Linked DNA regions of Homo sapiens: all the other regions are reported to be linked to region 6. The links are microRNA targets in miRTarBase. Many come from high-throughput screens and were not tested one by one. Region 6 holds a microRNA gene; each other region holds the end of a gene's coding sequence.
Evidence for each region. The annotated mature microRNA hsa-miR-125a-5p reads UCCCUGAGACCCUUUAACCUGUGA and lies in region 6 at 1,539-1,562, shown strand. An mRNA with a match to its seed (bases 2 to 7 or 8) in the 3' UTR can be bound and repressed. Matches are read on the target gene's strand: a 7mer-m8 pairs with bases 2 to 8, a 7mer-A1 pairs with bases 2 to 7 and ends in A, and an 8mer does both.

Region 1: miRTarBase lists TRMT2A as a target of hsa-miR-125a-5p. The part of its 3' UTR that is shown has no 7-base or 8-base seed match.
Region 2: miRTarBase lists MORC2 as a target of hsa-miR-125a-5p. Seed matches in the 3' UTR shown: 7mer-m8 at 1,394-1,400.
Region 3: the mRNA of IL1RN is a reported target of hsa-miR-125a-5p. The part of its 3' UTR that is shown has no 7-base or 8-base seed match.
Region 4: the mRNA of ZFAND1 is a reported target of hsa-miR-125a-5p. Seed matches in the 3' UTR shown: 7mer-A1 at 1,416-1,422.
Region 5: miRTarBase lists RBM17 as a target of hsa-miR-125a-5p. The part of its 3' UTR that is shown has no 7-base or 8-base seed match.

Annotation. Positions count from the first base shown.
Region 1 is chr22:20,110,108-20,113,190 of GRCh38, forward strand. It overlaps TRMT2A (tRNA methyltransferase 2A), which reads right to left. Exons shown (of 12, transcript NM_022727.6): 10 at 3,011-3,083; 11 at 2,804-2,900; 12 at 1,768-2,687. The coding sequence ends at 2,456. It overlaps DGCR8 (DGCR8 microprocessor complex subunit), which reads left to right. Exons shown (of 14, transcript NM_022720.7): 14 at 1-1,765. The coding sequence ends at 1. Among named protein-coding and RNA genes, the nearest start is that of MIR6816, 3.1 kb to the right of the region's middle. RefSeq lists an enhancer at 1,871-2,370.
Region 2 is chr22:30,924,352-30,927,351 of GRCh38, forward strand. It overlaps MORC2 (MORC family CW-type zinc finger 2), which reads right to left. Exons shown (of 26, transcript NM_001303256.3): 26 at 779-2,520. The coding sequence ends at 2,452. MORC2-AS1 (MORC2 antisense RNA 1) reads left to right here. Exons shown (of 2, transcript NR_026920.1): 2 at 378-2,303. Among named protein-coding and RNA genes, the nearest start is that of MORC2-AS1, 3.5 kb to the left of the region's middle.
Region 3 is chr2:113,132,538-113,135,667 of GRCh38, forward strand. IL1RN (interleukin 1 receptor antagonist) reads left to right here. Exons shown (of 4, transcript NM_173842.3): 4 at 119-1,477. The coding sequence ends at 334. Among named protein-coding and RNA genes, the nearest start is that of IL1RN, 6.5 kb to the left of the region's middle. RefSeq lists a silencer at 2,930-3,079.
Region 4 is chr8:81,700,077-81,703,194 of GRCh38, reverse strand. It overlaps ZFAND1 (zinc finger AN1-type containing 1), which reads left to right. Exons shown (of 8, transcript NM_024699.3): 7 at 71-226; 8 at 330-1,858. The coding sequence ends at 500. Among named protein-coding and RNA genes, the nearest start is that of SLC10A5, 6.6 kb to the right of the region's middle.
Region 5 is chr10:6,114,959-6,118,088 of GRCh38, forward strand. RBM17 (RNA binding motif protein 17) reads left to right here. Exons shown (of 12, transcript NM_032905.5): 11 at 281-353; 12 at 495-2,489. The coding sequence ends at 598. Among named protein-coding and RNA genes, the nearest start is that of RBM17, 27 kb to the left of the region's middle. RefSeq lists a silencer at 934-1,134.
Region 6 is chr19:51,691,730-51,694,859 of GRCh38, forward strand. MIR125A (microRNA 125a) reads left to right here and starts at 1,525; the gene lies at 1,525-1,610. SPACA6 (sperm acrosome associated 6) reads left to right here and starts at 1,601. Exons shown (of 9, transcript NM_001316972.2): 1 at 1,601-2,011; 2 at 2,749-2,826. The coding sequence starts at 1,798. SPACA6-AS1 (SPACA6 antisense RNA 1) reads right to left here and starts at 1,727. Exons shown (of 2, transcript NR_108100.1): 1 at 905-1,727. It overlaps MIR99B (microRNA 99b), which reads left to right and starts at 883; the gene lies at 883-952. It also overlaps MIRLET7E.

The DNA.
Region 1 (3,083 bases), not on the chromosome of region 6:
AGGGAGGTGGCACGGGCCAGGGCGCGGGGGCCGCCAGCCGCACTTCTGAGGAGACCAGCAGTCATGCATCGTGCACCACAGTGTCAGGCCTCCAACCCACGCTCCTTCCCTGTGGCCAACCTGTGGGCCCGGCCTTAGGGTGGAGGCTTTAGTGTACAGGGACAGCCATGGCCACACAGCACACATGTGGAGCAGCGGCTCTCCCTGGAAAGCTCCAGGCCTGAATGGATGGACTCAGCGACTGCACCAGTGGCAGCTGGTGACTGTGGACAGTGGTGGACCCTGCTTCTGTGCACCTGCTGCAGGCTCTTTTTATGAAGGCTTTCATGAATTTTAGTATGTAATACGCACTGACGACACATGATGCTTGGATGACAGATGAGAGGGGATGGCTGAGTCCTGTGGCTGGCCCGTGATGCCAGGTGGCCCATGTGCCCAGGGCGCCTGCAGGGCTGCTACAGGGACCTGGTCAGGAGGTGCACATGGTGCCCTGCCCTCACCCACCCTCTGTGTTTCCCCTTCTTTGAAAAGGTAGAAGAGAAAGGAATATTTTAAACCTTTTTGGCTTAAACAGAATTTTAGCATCAGAACTAGCTTTCTGGGATTGGAGGCAAACCATCAAGGTGGTCCCTCTCCAGTCTGGACACGATGCCAGCAAGGATGACGTCCTGCCACCTCCTGGAGTTACCCTGGCCTCCTAGGGTCCCTTTTTCTGATGAAGTCTTAATTCCCTAAAAGCGCCTCTTTGGACACTGAGGCCCTCTCTGCCTTTCCTGGCCTCCGGCAACAGTTTTTTACAAAGATTTTTTGCAGTCGAGTCCATATGTCCACCCATTGATTTTTAAAGCTTTTGTGATATTTTAGCATTTTGAAAGACTTTCACAGTGAGAGTAGAAGGTAGATTTGGAATCATGCATTTTAGCAAGTGGACTTGTTGAAACAGGAAGCAAGGGCCTTCAGTGTAGCCCATTCTTGATCCAGAGCTGTTGCCTGTGACAGCGGTTTCTCTGGATGTCAAAGGCAGCTGCCTGGTGCCCAGCTTGCTTCTCGACTGGTGGCCCCTATGGGTGGGTGTGCGATGGAAATGTGTTCCTGCCGGAGTCTGAGGCACCAGGGTGTGCTCAAAGGCTGGCCCTGGTGGTGGACTGGCACCTGTGCAGAGTGCCGTGTGCTTGTGGTGCGCCATCTGAAGCAAGAGTCCAGCGTTCTGCCGTGTCTGTCCCCCACCATGCCCCCTACAGGCGGTACTGATGGCGCTTTTTTTTTTTTTTCTGTCAGGAAAACAATGTTGGCCTGTGGGCCGCCCACAACATATCCTTCCCTCACTACCTGTGTGACCAAGGTTGGCTTCTGTTGACCTTTAAAAAAGAAACCCTCAACTCAAATTGCTATAATTAGACACTTGCTTCTGTCTTGCCTCCTGTCTGCAGCTGTGAATAGTCATTTGACTGTGACTGTTGCCCTTAGCCAGCCAGATGCGCCTGTGAACCAAAGCTTCGTGCACATGTGTTCCCCTAAAGGTTGGGGAGCCTCGCTGTGTCTTGCTGTTCCCAGGCACCACCACAGCAGGTGCTGCCATACTCTTGTGGTCTCTGTGCGCCCCCCCCCCCCCCCCACCCGTCTGCCAAGCATGGGTATGAATCGTGCACACAGCCATGCTTCAAGGCCGGGGCAGGGGAGCCTGTGCTGATGCCATCCAGGGCACTGGGCTGTGCCTGGAAGGCGAGCCTTGATTGTCTGAACACATAAAGCAAACTGTCCAGAAGGGAATGGCTGATGTCTTTATTCTGAGGGTGAGAGGCTGGCACCCTGTGGACCCTTGACTGGCCAGATCCCCTCCTGGGGCCTCCCTGCAGGCTGGACCCTGCCTTTGTAACAGCTGAGCAGCACCCCAGCATGGCCCCTTCCTTGGTTGATGCCCTCTCTGCTGGGCTGAGGGCCAGGCTGGCCACAGAGGGGCCAACTCTGCCCAGTGTTCTCCACCCCATGCCCCCAGCTGGTGCAGTTCCCAGACCTCTCTCTGCCTCTCCTCAAGTTTAAGTATCAAATCGAACATTCTTTTTTAAAGTAAGCTCTGCCCTGACTCCCCCAGCCATGCAGAGAGGCTTGCAGAGCTGCCTAGGCCTAGTTTGGCCCTTTCCCTGGCACCCAGGCCCTGTGTTCAGACCCCTGGCTCTCATCACAGAAACACCCTTTGTTGAGCAGTTGTTTATTCTGGCCCTCACAGCCTTGGCTAGTCCACAAAGGCCCTGGGGATGGGCAACAGGCTACAGGAACCCACCTGTCTTCCTGGTCAGGGCCCCTGGCCCCTAGCAGCAGGCCAATCCTGGTGGGGCACAGGGTTCTGTGCCCTTTGGCTGCCTACCTCTGAATATCCTGGCCAGCAAGCCATGCCTTCCCCGCCCCTGGGGCCCTGGGAGCCCTTCAGCTCCTGTCCCCATAATGGGTCCTGGGCCTAGGATGAGGGGAAGGTCCCAGTTTCTTGTAGGGTGTTATCTGGGGGTCCTGGTGTGGGTTGAGCTGGAGGGCTGTGGGGCCCCAAGACCCCTGTGCCATTGGGGTGCTCCACCCTCTCAAACAGGATGAGCATCTCACAGTGCGGGGTCTGCGGGAACAGGTCCACTGCCACAGCCTTGACCGGCCGGAAGGGAATGCCCTTCACCCGGTTAGATGGGGCTCTGCAGAGGCTGTGGGGGGAAAAGGGGGGCGCTAAGGTCAGCCGATAGGCTAATCAGGGGCTCCTGTGGGAGCTGGGGGCTTGGTAGCAGGCCTAGCCCCCACCCAGGCCCCTGCAGACACTCACTCCACAAAGTTGCCCATGGCTGCCCGGGGGTTGCATGAGACGTACAGCAGCCGCCTGAGGTTCTTAGCTCTCCGGATGGCCAGGATCACCTTGGAATCTGAGGAGGCAAACACCAGCTGGGTCCCCACAGCCAGAGAGTGCATAACATGGTGAGCCACCCCATGTGTCCTCGTTCCCGTGCCACCTCCTTAAGCAAAAGCCACTCACGCAAGCCAGCACGGGGTGGGTCCAGGATGGCCACGAGGTGCTGGGAGGCCAGTCTGCTCACCAGGGTGGGCAC
Region 2 (3,000 bases), not on the chromosome of region 6:
TTCACTTAAAAACCAAACACCCTAGGTGAGGCATGGTGGCTCACACTGTAATCCCAGCACTCTGGGAGGCCGAGGCAGGTGGATCACTTGAGCTCAGGAGTTTGAGACCATCCTAAGCAACATGACGAAACTCTACCAAAAATACAAAAAAAATTCGCCAGGCATGATGGTGTGTGCCTGTGGTTCCAGCTACCTGGGAGGCTAAGGTGGGAGATCACTTGAGCCTGGAAGGCAGATGTATCAGTGAGCCAAGATCGTGCCACTGCACTCCAGCCTAGGTGACCAGGGCGAGACCCCCATCTCAAACAAAACACCCTAGAGTCCCCACCCCTCTCGTTCTTTAAACACCAGCATTGCTGCCCTTCACTTTCTTGCAGCCTTGTGCAAAGGACCTTCTCACCACAGATCAGCCAGACCATCTTCCTCCTTCCAAGTCATCAAAGAGTTCCAAGCTGGTCACCTGTCCCTTGATGTTCCCAGGAAACCAGGAAAGAGGACCCCTGCATTTTATCTTCCCATCCAGAGTGGCAGGATCTCTGCCTGGGAAACAGGCTTCATTCAGCACAGCTGTGGTAGCATTAACAAAGCAAAGTGGGCACATGTAGAAGTTGAAGCTAAAACATTCAAGAACTCCAGTCTGTTTCTGTGGATGTTAAGGGGGTGAAGATAAAACAATGGAGGTGATGAGGAGGAATAACTTGAAGACAGTTTAAAGCCACAGTGATACAAAGAATGAAGAGAAGGAAGGTGCTGGATTTTACTAAGAAAACAGACTGAGTTCAGGAGTCTCACCAGTAGAACTTTATAGTATTGCGTTTCGATTACATGTGTGTGAATTTTAAAAACTGATTACCCTCCAGTAAAAATGTGGAACCAATTTGCATTTGGATTAAAACATTAGGTTTGGGGACAAAAGTGGACCCCATGCTGCCTGAGATGAAGAGAGAGAGCAGGATGGCAGAGGAATCACCAGCTCAAGAAACCCCAAGACTTGGACAGTCTTCCAGCAGAAGAGGCCAGGGTCTCTCAGTGTACTACTCCAAACAGGCCTCTCCTAGAGATGTAGTCTGGGAAGGTCCAAAACCCACCAGACAGGCACATCCAGTGGGGAAAAGACTTCCCATTCCAGTGTGGCCTGCATCCCTCACCTCTGCTTCCCAGTCTTCTGCTGACCTCAGAGGAGCAGGGTGGCCATTGCTGATCTGGGTTAGGGAGATGCCAGAAACACACCCAGGTTTGAACCACAGGTTAGTGGTACAAAGTCACAGTCCTTGTGCCTTCAGAAAACCCAGAGGCCCCAAATACGAGTGGGAAGAGAGTTGGGAAAAACTGAACCAGACTCTTCCAATGGCCATTAAAGAGAAAATTCAGCAACGCTTGCCTTTGTCTTTGACCCTGAGAAGTTAAGGGACACAGATTGTGGCGCCGTGATGGAACATGGAGGGAAGGCATGGTGTGCTTCCTGCAGAGATGCCTCTGGAGTCCCTGTGGCCACGGGATCTCACTGGCCCCCTCTTCAGGCACCTTGATGGGGCTCAGTGGGGCCAGGCCGAAGGGTGGAAGTAGAAAAGCATCAACAGGCTGTCCAGATCAATTGGCACCATCCAAGGCCCTGCTGCACCCACACATGGAGGTCACCAGCTCAGCCCCAGGGGTTCTTTCACACACAAGCTCCTTCCCTAAGGAGTCCTGTGGGGTTCCACACTCAGTGTGCTGCCCAAGTCAGAGATTTACCACAGATCTGTCTCCCCCTCAACCTGGACTCAAGTTACTGTGGTGAGAAACCTCACTGTCCATGGTTAACTGAAGAAATCCCTCCTTCAGAAAGAACTTGAGTAGTAGATGAGGTGGTTAGACAGGATCTTTTTCCCTCAAGCTGTTTGGACGCCACAGCCAGGACCAACTCTGACAGCTGCGAGAGAGAGAGCCCCTCCAATGTGGAACCTCCTACACAGCCCCCCTTTTGGGTCCCTGGATATGAGCCCCCAGCAGGACCACCACTCTAGGGGGAAGTCTCCCTCCCATCCCTCAGATCCCCACATTGTTCCTCCTGTAGGAGAAAAGTCAGCCCTGCCCCTGGAGCTTCTCCAAGATGGCACTGGACTCGCCGTTATCTTGAGGAGCCAGGAGCTGAAATGGCTCCGGCTTAGCAACCCAGTATGGCCAAAGTGGAAAGGTTCTCTGTCCTTTGCAGTCACCAAAAAAAAAAAAAAAAAAAAAAAAAAAAAAAAAAAAGTATGGTCTCACAGGCACAGCATCTTCTTTTAAAAAATAAATATTTATAAACTTAAGGAAGATTCAAAGAATCAGGGTATCTTTTCCTCCAAAAACACAAATGTCCCGTGTAAGTCAAACCAAGGTGCGACCACCAACCCATGAATGAAGTCCCCTCCCCCTGCAGCTACAGGGTTGAGGGGCAGGTGGGCAGGGGAGCTGCTCTCTCTCCTGCCTTCAGTCCCCCTTGGTGATGAGGTCCTCAATGTAGGCGTCCAGCTCATCATCTGTGTTGATGTCTATGTCCTGGAATAGAGCAGGGTAGGGATCAACTGGGGGCCAGAAAGTGATTGGGGGGCTCACCTTTCCACCCTTCTCTCAGCTCCTGGGATGGAGCCCAGAGTCCTCTCCCTGACCTCCCACCCCGCCCTGGATGTCAGGCTTCTGTCCTGTCTTAATCACTCTCCCCTCCCTCATCTATTGTGCACAGATGATGCCCAGATTTCCTACGCCCACCCTGCCTCTACCCCATGTTCCCAATTGTCTTAGATGTATATTTCCCTCAGATACTACAAATATGCCCACTTCTCTCCCTTCTCTGTCACTGCCCAAGGTCCAGGCCACCACTGTCTCAGACAACTGTGGGAGCCTCCTCACAGGAGGCTCTGGTTCTAACTTTGACCCCTCCAGGCCTCCTCCAACCAAGCAGGTACATGTCTGAGACTGAAAACTGCATCATGCCACACCCCTCCAGTGATCTCCACTGTTCTCGGGATCAAACCCCAC
Region 3 (3,130 bases), not on the chromosome of region 6:
TTTCCCCTGTACTAACTCTGGGCTGTCCAGAGGGCCATTTCATGGCGTGGAGTGGAGAGGGAGGCAGCACAGGACTTCCTAGGCCTCAGCTCTCACCTGCCCATCTTTTGATTTCCAGGCAGTTAACATCACTGACCTGAGCGAGAACAGAAAGCAGGACAAGCGCTTCGCCTTCATCCGCTCAGACAGTGGCCCCACCACCAGTTTTGAGTCTGCCGCCTGCCCCGGTTGGTTCCTCTGCACAGCGATGGAAGCTGACCAGCCCGTCAGCCTCACCAATATGCCTGACGAAGGCGTCATGGTCACCAAATTCTACTTCCAGGAGGACGAGTAGTACTGCCCAGGCCTGCCTGTTCCCATTCTTGCATGGCAAGGACTGCAGGGACTGCCAGTCCCCCTGCCCCAGGGCTCCCGGCTATGGGGGCACTGAGGACCAGCCATTGAGGGGTGGACCCTCAGAAGGCGTCACAACAACCTGGTCACAGGACTCTGCCTCCTCTTCAACTGACCAGCCTCCATGCTGCCTCCAGAATGGTCTTTCTAATGTGTGAATCAGAGCACAGCAGCCCCTGCACAAAGCCCTTCCATGTCGCCTCTGCATTCAGGATCAAACCCCGACCACCTGCCCAACCTGCTCTCCTCTTGCCACTGCCTCTTCCTCCCTCATTCCACCTTCCCATGCCCTGGATCCATCAGGCCACTTGATGACCCCCAACCAAGTGGCTCCCACACCCTGTTTTACAAAAAAGAAAAGACCAGTCCATGAGGGAGGTTTTTAAGGGTTTGTGGAAAATGAAAATTAGGATTTCATGATTTTTTTTTTTCAGTCCCCGTGAAGGAGAGCCCTTCATTTGGAGATTATGTTCTTTCGGGGAGAGGCTGAGGACTTAAAATATTCCTGCATTTGTGAAATGATGGTGAAAGTAAGTGGTAGCTTTTCCCTTCTTTTTCTTCTTTTTTTGTGATGTCCCAACTTGTAAAAATTAAAAGTTATGGTACTATGTTAGCCCCATAATTTTTTTTTTCCTTTTAAAACACTTCCATAATCTGGACTCCTCTGTCCAGGCACTGCTGCCCAGCCTCCAAGCTCCATCTCCACTCCAGATTTTTTACAGCTGCCTGCAGTACTTTACCTCCTATCAGAAGTTTCTCAGCTCCCAAGGCTCTGAGCAAATGTGGCTCCTGGGGGTTCTTTCTTCCTCTGCTGAAGGAATAAATTGCTCCTTGACATTGTAGAGCTTCTGGCACTTGGAGACTTGTATGAAAGATGGCTGTGCCTCTGCCTGTCTCCCCCACCGGGCTGGGAGCTCTGCAGAGCAGGAAACATGACTCGTATATGTCTCAGGTCCCTGCAGGGCCAAGCACCTAGCCTCGCTCTTGGCAGGTACTCAGCGAATGAATGCTGTATATGTTGGGTGCAAAGTTCCCTACTTCCTGTGACTTCAGCTCTGTTTTACAATAAAATCTTGAAAATGCCTATATTGTTGACTATGTCCTTGGCCTTGACAGGCTTTGGGTATAGAGTGCTGAGGAAACTGAAAGACCAATGTGTCTTTCTTACCCCAGAGGCTGGCGCCTGGCCTCTTCTCTGAGAGTTCTTTTCTTCCTTCAGCCTCACTCTCCCTGGATAACATGAGAGCAAATCTCTCTGCAAAAAAGATATGGGGCAGCACTGTCCACAACAGCCTCTGCTGGAAACAACCCAAGCACCCATCACAGAATGAATTAGTACATCATGTATCTGCACACAACACAGTGCTCCTTGGCAAAGAAAATGAATGAATTACAGCCAGCTGCACCTCACAAGACAGATAATCTTACAAACATCATGTGGGTACAAGAATCACAAAAGCATGCATAGAGTGTGATTCCATTTCTACAAAGTTCAAAACGGGCAACATGGGGCTGTTGTGTGGAGGGCTGTGGAAACAGGTGGTGCAGAGAGAAGCAAGGCCATGCTCTGTCTGAAGGCCCAGTGACACTTGGCCCCTGCGAGAGAGAGTGGCAGGCAGGAGCACCTGGGGGATTTTAGGGTCCAGACAACATTCTATTTCTTGGCATGGATGCAGTTAGGCGGTTTTCTGTATGTATATTTTATTTCACAATACCTAGAAAATAAAAAGACTTGCCCCCCAACAACCAGGGTGTAAAGAAAGGAGCATCTGGGAAATTATGAGATTAGTGAATGGAGTATTGAATTTGTCCCCATAGGTGGGAGTGCAAGACCATGAGTGACCACTTATCAAACACACCTCAGTAAACAGTCAGGAGAGTGAGGAGTGTGGTCCTTTCACCTGCCCAGGTTGTTTCTGTTAGATTCTGGGCTTGGTCTCTGGAGTCCAAGAGGCAGGCCCCAGTGAGGTCATGCACTTGCTGTCTGATTTTGGCCAAGTCACCTCCCTTTGTGGGGACTGTTCCTCATTTGTTTGAGGGGAATGTTGATTTGGATGGGGATTTTCCAAACAGAGCTCCTTGGACCCTTCCCTCTAAGGTCTCTGGAAATGGGAAACCCTGCAGAGGGGAGGATAAATGGGCCAGGATTCATCCCTTGAACCCTGTTCCCAACAGAGCCCTCTGTTTTTCTCTTCTTTACAACTTGGACCTCCCATGGGACTTTGTTTGAAAGGGAGACTTCATTGCTAAAAGCAAACTAAACTAAATAGGCTAAAAGGCAACAAACTGGAGAAAATGTTTAAGGTCTTCTCTAGATCTAAGATCCTATGACGTTGAGGAGGTCATCCAACATCTCTGAGTTTTCTCTTTCTTGTATATAAAATGGAAGTAGCTGGCAGGGCAGGGCATGTGTCGTTGATATATTTTTAATCCTGGTAAAAGGAGGAGGTTCAAGGCAGAAAACTCATCAAAGCTTAATGACAACAATAGCAGCTAACATTTGTGAGGCTCTAAGGTAAAACCCAAGGCTAAGACTCTTCATGCAAACTAGGTCAAGCAGCAAGCTACAGGTTAGAAACAGGCAAGGCAGCAAAACAGTCACATGGGTGAACTCTGGGACTCTGCAGTCACACTCTGACTCTCCTGCTTGCACTGGGTGCTCATAAGCAAGCTAGTTAACACCTCAGAGCCTTGGTTTTCCCACCACTAAATGCAAATAATAGGCAATGCTGAGTTA
Region 4 (3,118 bases), not on the chromosome of region 6:
GTTGGCACCAGACAAAAACTGATGTCTATTTTGTCTATGTAATGGTTGTTTTAACTTTTTCTTTTTACAGACAGAAAGAATTTACTTTCAGGTTTTCTTACCTAAAGGGAGCAAAGAGAAGAGCAAACCAATGTTCTTTTGCCACCGATGGAGCATTGGAAAGGCCATAGACTTTGCCGCTTCTCTAGCCAGGCTTAAAAATGACAATAACAAATTTACAGCTAAGGTAACATCTCATTATAATAATATTTCTATATTAATAAAGGTTTTATGATGCTCCATTCAAGCATGTTTATTTATTACAGTATGACTTACTTCTCCCTTCACAGAAATTAAGGCTGTGTCACATTACTTCAGGAGAAGCCTTACCCTTGGATCATACTTTGGAAACCTGGATTGCTAAGGAGGATTGTCCTTTATATAATGGTGGAAATATAATCTTGGAATATCTTAATGATGAAGAACAATTCTGTAAAAATGTTGAATCTTACTTGGAATAGTCATTCAAAGATTCAAGTCAGAAATCACAGGGAAAATTCTATTACATGTTTAAGTCCATTTATTTTACTACAAATACTATTTTTGTAATTTTTAAAAGTTGCTTTTTAACTTATTTCCCCTTATGTCACATTTTAAATTATGAGTTTTCTATTAGAGTTTTTTGGTTTTAAGTTTAATTGTGTACGGATCCTCAATTATTAGCAAATTCTTATATTTAATTAGCTTTCATTAGTTTATGCTGTAGTGACAACAACAAAGATGTATTTCCTGGTGGGGGATGTCAGCTGTTGATTGGCTGTGACACTGCTTTGTGTCATCTTCTTACCATGATCAAAGGCAAAGGAAGGGATCTCTTTTGGGACATTGTGATTGTTTTAGCAGAGAGAGAAAGAGATGAAATACACTTCGGTTTTCTCTTAAAAGATGCATGTATCATACGTGCTTTAAGCAAGTCATGTGGCCAAGCCTAGCATCATGGAGCCAGAAAGTATAGCCTTGCTGTCTGTCTACATCATGATGTATAAATTGATATATCTACATGAATTATAGAAACTTAGAAGTGATCTTTATTCAGTCTTATAATTTTTACATGAAGAATCTTAGGCCTAGGAGGAGAAAATGATTTTCTTTCTATTACCTAACTAGATTGGGGCATATTTCTGATAAAGACCCACCTCTAGTGAGATTCATCTTTTTTGTTTGTGTGACTATATTCCATAGAGAAGAAAGATGGGATAGCTCAACTTCATTATATACCAAAGCAAAACACATGCCAAATGATGACTACATTTTACCAACATATTTAGACGAGTATTCTTGACTAGTGTTTACTATCTATACCCCCAAAACTACTACTATATAGACAGAATGGAAAGTATTTCTATTTGTCCTTTTTTTGTTTTCTGTTCTAATTGTCAGGGACATATGTAGTGGCTATAGGTTTACTTAAAAGGAATAAATTTGGAATGCTCATTTGGTTTATTTCCTTTCTAATTCTTCATATTATTTTTATGTGAGGAATGGAGATAATTTCCAACTTTTATTATGTTCTTGTACTTTCATTCATTAGCATAGTTATTTGAGTTCCCACTAAATGTAGGGATTTGTCCTAATTGCCATGATTAATACAATGATGATATGTATACATACAGGTATACCTTGGAAATATTGTGGGTTCAGTTTCAGACTACCACACAAAGCAAATATTGGAGTATATTGAGCCAGACAAATTTTTTTTTGTTTCCCAGGGCATATAAAAATTATGTTTACACTATACTATAGTCTATTTAATGTGCAATAGCATTATGTCTAAAAAATGTATATACTTTAAGTAAAAAAATACTTTATTGCTAAAAAATGCTAATAATATCTGAGCCTTCAACAATTTGTAATGTTTTTGCTGATGGAGGGTCTTGCCTAATTTCAATAGCTACTGACTGATTGGGGCGGTAGTTACAGAAGGTTGGGGTGGCTGTGACAACTTCTTAAAATAAGACCACAGTGAAGTTTGCCACATTGATTGACTCTTCTTTTCATGAAAGATTTCTGTGTAGCATGCAATGCTTTTGATAGCATTTTTTCCTGAGTAGAACCTCTTTCAAAATTGAAGTCAATCCTCTTAAACCCTGCCACAGCTTTATCAACTAAGATAATGGAATATCTAAATTTTTTGTTACCATTTCAACAATGTTCTTAGCATCTTCACTAGGAGGAGATTCTCTCTTATTTTATTTATTTATTTATTTATTTTTTCTGAGGTGGAGTTTCACTCTTGTTGCCCAGGTTGGAGTACAGTGGTGTGATCTTGGCTCACTGCAACCTCCGCTTCCCAGGTTCAAGTGATTCTCCTGCCTCAGCCTCCTGAGTAGCTGGGATTACAGGCATGCGCCACCACACCTGGCTAATTTTGAATTTTTAGTGGAGACGGAGTTTCTGCATGTTGGTCAGGCTGGTCTGAAACTCCCGACCTCAGGTGATCTGCCTACCTCAGCCTCACAAAGTGCTGGGATTACAGGCGTGAACCACCATGTCCGGCCGAGATTCCCTCTTAAGAAACCACTCTTTGCTCATCCATAAGAAGCAACACCTCATCCATTCAGCTTTTGTTAAGAGATTGCAGCAATTCAATCACATCATCAAACTCTACTTCTACTTCTTGTTTTCTTGCCAATTCCACCACATCTACAATTATAAGATCACTAATTGCAGATCACAAAAACAGATGTAATAATAATGAAAAAGTTTGAAATATTGAGAGACTCACCAGACTGTGACACAGATACACAAAGTAAATGCATGCTATTAGAAAAATGGCTCTGGTAGGTCGGGCGTGGTGGCTCACACCTGTAATCCCAGCACTTTGGGAGGCCGAGGCGGGTGGATCACTTGAGGTCAGGAGTTCGAGACCAGCCTGGCCAACATAGTGAAACCCTGTCTCTACTAAAAATACAAAAATTAGCTTGGTGTGGTCGTGGGCGCCTGTAATCCCAGCTACTGGGGAGGATGAGGCAGGAGAATCACTTGAGCCTGGGAGGTAGAGGTTGCAGTGAGCCGAGATCATGCCACTGCACTCCAGCCTGGTGACAAAGCAAAAAAGACTGCATTTGATTTAATCTGA
Region 5 (3,130 bases), not on the chromosome of region 6:
CATAATTATTTGTTTACGTCATCAGCTGGCACAGGGCCTTTATGAGGTCAGAGACTGCCTAGCCCTGTGTTCCTGGCACCTAACAATGCCTGTCATAAAAACAGGCATTCAGTACGTTTTTGATGATGAACAAATTATACTTATTTCCTTGGTATTTGACAACTACTTGACTGTATATGATGATAATTAGAATATCCACTCTGAGAAATCATTTAAAAGAGAAAACTCATTCAATGCAATCTCAAATGCCTTTACTCATCACGCTCTCATTTTCTTCCAGATTCCTGGTGCCCCTGATGATGAAGCAGTACGGATATTTTTAGAATTTGAGAGAGTTGAATCAGCAATTAAAGGTTAGTGGTACAGCTAAATATTAAAGAATAAAAAAGTTGAATTTACAGCCTTAATCTTTACAAGTAAAGTTACTGTTTAATTAAAGTTAAACCTTTATCTTATAGGATACCTGTATTAACTGTCTTTTGTTTGCCTTTCAGCGGTTGTTGACTTGAATGGGAGGTATTTTGGTGGACGGGTGGTAAAAGCATGTTTCTACAATTTGGACAAATTCAGGGTCTTGGATTTGGCAGAACAAGTTTGATTTTAAGAACTAGAGCACGAGTCATCTCCGGTGATCCTTAAATGAACTGCAGGCTGAGAAAAGAAGGAAAAAGGTCACAGCCTCCATGGCTGTTGCATACCAAGACTCTTGGAAGGACTTCTAAGATATATGTTGATTGATCCCTTTTTTATTTTGTGGTTTTTTAATATAGTATAAAAATCCTTTTAAAAAAACAACAATCTGTGTGCCTCTCTGGTTGTTTCTCTTTTTTATTATTACTCCTGAGTTGATGACATTTTTTGTTAGATTTCATGGTAATTCTCAAGTGCTTCAATGATGCAGCATTTCTTGCACTAAAAAAAAAAAAAAAAAAAAAACTAGAAAGTTTTGGGACATGGGGTTATATTAAATTATTCTTTGTTTTTCTTTTTCTTTTAATAAAGCCTGCAAGTTACTAAATTGTAGTTTCATAAATTCTGTAGTAAAGTATCATCTTGGCAGTGTGCCAAAGGTGAAAATGATGCTTTCTCTAACAGAGAAATTCTTAGTGACTCCAGTCGTAGAAAAACGTCTTTACAACCTGAATAAGATTGAAGAATTGTGAACATACCATGGCCTATTGGATGAATCATTTGCCGTAGGCTAAATCAGACTGTAGGGTTTGTGATGGATTTATGGAGTATGTGGGTATAGAAATCATGAATCTAGCATTTGTTTTCAGAGATTCAAGCATAGTCTTAAGGGTAGATCAGAAATGACAAATGAATTCAAAACCTAGCAGGTGCATTGTAAATGTGTGCCCAGTTATGTTTTGGAAATGGCAGTTCCTTGGGGTCATGTTTCTACTGGCAAAATTTGCAATAGTGTTCTATTGTATGTAATTTTAAAATTTATAAGATTATCCACGTTGGCCAAGTAAACTGTACTGCCAATAGAATTCTGGAATTGTGAGAAATTGTATCATTGAAGTTCAGTAGGATGTGTGGCTTAAAAATTTATCAGGACCACAAAAAAGAAAACAAAAATATTTGGTACTGAGGTTCATTGCCAGGGCAGGAGGTATTTCCAGAAAATACTCATGCCTGTGTTCTGTTCCTTGCTTTCCCAAATACTGCATGTGACTTTCCTAAGCGGCAGCTGAAAGACTCGAGCCCGTGCTGTCTCCTTTGGTTATTATGACATGAAAGTGTATCAAGAACTCAGCATTTCTTTGCATCCATGGACTTGGTTTGGAGACATAAGGAATATTCTGACCCTTTTTAAAAAAGGATTTTCTCATGTTTTTATTTAACATAAATAAAAGAATAACATTTTATCTTTTGTGGTATTATTTTATTGAATAAAATTGAGTTTTATGATAAAAGTGCACCTGTTCTGTAAAGTAAGTTGGGGTTAAGGAATGTGAGGTAAATTACATAATTGAACATTGTGGAAGACAGAATCAAAAGCAGCCCTGGAACTTCAGTTATCTATGGAATTAGGCATACCATTCCTCAAGTGGAAACCATGTTTGTGCTTACAAGTACCGGAGTGTGCTTGTTTAATTTTAGAAACTAATGGTTCCAACCCACCTTTCATGCATGCATTTATTGTTGTTATGCTTTGTAAAACATTGTTTGCACCTAAATGGGTGGCTTTTCCTAACATTCTCATGGTCAGCAACCAGAGAGTTGCAACCAACTCATACTACTTGATTTCCGTTCGCATGAGGACAGCTTGGTGTGTGCCTTTCTCCCCAGTCTTTTATTTTTAAAATAACTGTGTTAATCAGTTAGTGCTTTATTTATAATGAATTTCTGATAGTCGAATAATTTCTAAATCTCCTGCAAGTTAGTACTTGAGAAATTTGAAATTAATTTTCAATATTAACATTTAAGCTAATATAAAAATTTTAAATTTCAATAAAAATTAAAAATTATGTAAGCTACAATGTAACTGGCAAGTTTCCGTGTAATAGACGTTTGTCATTCTTGGTGGCCCATCTGTGAGTTTTTGAAACCCCTTTTTCTTTTTTTTTCTTTTTTTTTTGAGACGGAGTCTTGCTCTGTCGCCCAGGCTGGAGTGCAGTGGCATGATCTGGGCTCACTGCAACCTCCGCCTTCTGGGTTCACGCCATTCTTCTGCCTCAGCCTCCCAAGTAGCTGGGACTACAGGCGCCCGCCACCACGCCCGGCTAATTTTTTGTATTTTTAATAGAGACGGGGTTTCTCCGTGTTAGCCAGGATGGTCTTGATCTCCTGACCCGTGATCCGCCTCAGCCTCCCCAAGTGCTGGGATTACAGGTGTGAGCCACCGAGCCCAGCCTGAAACGCCTTTTTCTGTGTGGGGAACTTCCTTGTTTCCCTCCTCCCCGCAAGAGACTAGAAACTTGCTTTCCCAGCCTGTCTTGCAGGTTGAGTAGGGTTGTGCGCTTGGGATCTCTGATCAGACCGGCACCGCAGTGTGGGAGAGAAGCTGTGTGAAGAGTCTGTCGTCTGACTTTGGCAAGGGTTCCTCTGCACAGTGTTGTGTGGCACTGGGGGCAGCAGTGGCAGAGACCTTGTCACCTCTGCTGGTGTGTGGTATCTGGCA
Region 6 (3,130 bases):
GCAGCGAGAACCAGACAGTCCAGGAGGAGGGGCTGGGCACGGGAGAGACCCCAGCTGGAGGGGCTCAGAGCCCAGGGGTGGGGAGGGTGGGTGCTGGGTCCCGGGGTCCAGAAGCTGGAGAAGGCTGGGGACACCTCCTGGATTCAAGAGGGAGGACAGAGATGGGGCTGGGCAGACTTTGGGAGCCTCTTCCCCTCTCTGAGGCTCAGCCCCCTCACCTGCCAAATGGGGATGCTGAGGGCACCTCGCTCTCTGGAGTGGGAGGTGTCAGGGAGAGGACTGGTGCTCAGGGCCTGGTATGGGGTCAGCGCTGGGAGATTGTGGCTGTCATAGTTGTAAATGACCCAAAGAAGGGAGGAGAGAGGAAAGAAAGCACCTAGGGAGGCTCTGATGGTTGGCTAGCCCCTGGCCTCCTTAGCCCTGGGCCTGGAGTCTCTGCAGACTGACAGGAGGGTAGGTAGGAAGCAGGTGTGCCCAAAGGGCCAAATTACGAGACAAATGAGGTTCCCTCCCAGCCGGCACCCAGGAAGCCAGGTTTTCTATCAGGCCATGCCTTCCCCAGGAGGCCTGCCTGGCCGGAGGGAGGAGGGGCTGGGGGCAGGGACTCCTGGGTCTCTGGGGAGAAGGAGGCTTTGGATCTGGACTCATGAGTCTGAGGGAGGAAGGGGCTGAGTCCTTGGATTCCAGGAACATTTGGGGAGAAAAGGGCCAGAGGCCTGGATTCCTGGGTCTGTGGTGAGGAAGGGCCTAGACTTCTGGGTTCTTTAGGGAGGAGGGGGATGAGAGCCTTGACTCCAGGGTCCCTGATGAGGAAGGGGCTGAGGGCCTGGACTCCTGGGTTCCTTGGGGAGGAGGGGCCGGGGGCCCGGACTCCTGGGTCCTGGCACCCACCCGTAGAACCGACCTTGCGGGGCCTTCGCCGCACACAAGCTCGTGTCTGTGGGTCCGTGTCGGGGGCTCACCATCGCGGCTGGGGCCTCCCCGGCCCTCCCCCTCATCCCTGGTCCTCCTGGTCCCTGTCTGTCTGTCTGTCGGGTCTGTCCACCTGCCGCGCCCCCCGGGCTGAGGTAGGAGGTTGTATAGTTGAGGAGGACACCCAAGGAGATCACTATACGGCCTCCTAGCTTTCCCCAGGCTGCGCCCTGCACGGGACGGGGCCCGGCGGGGACCCCCAGCCCCACTCAGGGACCCTTAGCCCCACTGGGCTGCCCCAGGGACCCTGGGAGGAAGAGCCGGGCTCTTTTCTGTCCTTGTCCCTGCATCCCCTCCTTCCCCTGAAATCTGTTTTCCTTCCCTGTCTGTCTCCATCTCTGCTGTGTCTCTGTGGCTTCTGTGTCTCTTTCACAGTGGATCCTCTGACTCCCTCTTATTCTGGCTTTCTAGGTCTCTGCCCCTCCCGATATCTCTCTGTGTCTCTATTTCTGTCGTTTTTGGTCTTTCTGTCTCTGGCTCTCAGAATGTCTCTGTGCCTATCTCCATCTCTGACCCCCACCCCAGGGTCTACCGGGCCACCGCACACCATGTTGCCAGTCTCTAGGTCCCTGAGACCCTTTAACCTGTGAGGACATCCAGGGTCACAGGTGAGGTTCTTGGGAGCCTGGCGTCTGGCCCAACCACACACCTGGGGAATTGCTGGCCTGACTTCTGACCCCTGACTCCTCATACCCTTCCTCCAGAGCATGACATTTGACCACCAACTGAAACCTGACCTCTGACCCCAGACCACTGGCCCTTCCCCCGCCCTGTGGTGACTTCATAAAGGTTACTAGCTTCTCCCCTGGCCTTGAGACCCACACGATGGCCCTGCTGGCTCTGGCCAGTGCCGTCCCGTCTGCCCTGCTGGCCCTGGCTGTCTTCAGGGTGCCCGCCTGGGCCTGTCTCCTCTGCTTCACAACCTACTCTGAGCGCCTCCGCATCTGCCAGATGTTTGTTGGGATGCGGAGCCCCAAGCTTGAAGAGTGTGAGGAGGCCTTCACGGCCGCCTTCCAGGGCCTCTCTGACACCGAAATCAGTGAGGAGACCATCCACACTTCATCAGTGTCCTGGGGAAGGTGCAGAGGGAGGGCAGGAGAGGCCCAGAGGGTCAGGCTGAGGGACAGACAGAGAGAAACAGTCAGAGGAGAAAGGCTCAAAGACCATGAGAACAACAGAGACTTAGGGACAGAGAGACACAGACAGGGGAAGACAGCAGGGCAAAGACTCAGAGAGGGGAGGATGGAGAGTCAGAGAGGGGAAGATGGAGACTCAGAGAGGGGGAGGATGGAGACTCAGAGAGAGAGGAAGATGGAGACTCGGAAAGATGGAGACTCAGGAGTATGGAGAGTCAGAGAGGGGAGGATGGACACTCGGGAGGATGGAGAGTCAGGAGGATGGAGACTCATAGAAAGGGGAGGATGGAGAGTCAGGAGAGGTTGGAGACTGGAGAGGGAATAGAGACCCAGAGAGGGGAGGATGGAGACTCAGAGGGTGGAAGATGGAGACTCAAAGAGGATGGAAACCCAGAGAGAGGAGGACAGAGATGAGGCAGAGACTAGGGGAAGCAGGATAGCGACTGGTCGGGGGCAGAGACTCAGGGAGGATAGAGACTTGGGAGGGACTCAGGAAGCATAGCGACTGTGGGGCAAAGAGTCAGAGAGGGGAGGATACAGACTTGGGAGGGCAGAGACTCAGAAACAGAATGTTCGCATTAGGGACATGGTGTTGCGGGGAGCTGCCTCCCCCAGCCCCTGCTCCCTCCCTCACCGCCAGACTATGATGAGAGAAGCCACCTGCATGACACCTTCACCCAGATGACCCATGCCCTGCAGGAGCTGGCTGCTGCCCAGGGTGAGTGTGTGGGGATGGGGAGATGGGAGATGTGGACTTGGAGCCCCTAAGAAATGGGTATGTGGGAGGGCCCAGGGCAGAGGAAGGAGGCCCCCAGAGTTGGGCAGTGATCCGGGAGGGGAAAGCTGGGAAGACATTGAGCTCAGCTACTTGTCCAAACGAAGGCTGAAGGCAGCTCTAAGAGCCAGGGGCTGAAGGTGGTGAGGGGGAAGGGACGCTGCAGAAATTGCCTAGAGCTGGAAGTCCAGATGGGGTCGGGTAGGCATAGGTTCTGCCATGGCTGCATGGCTCACACTCTTACTGG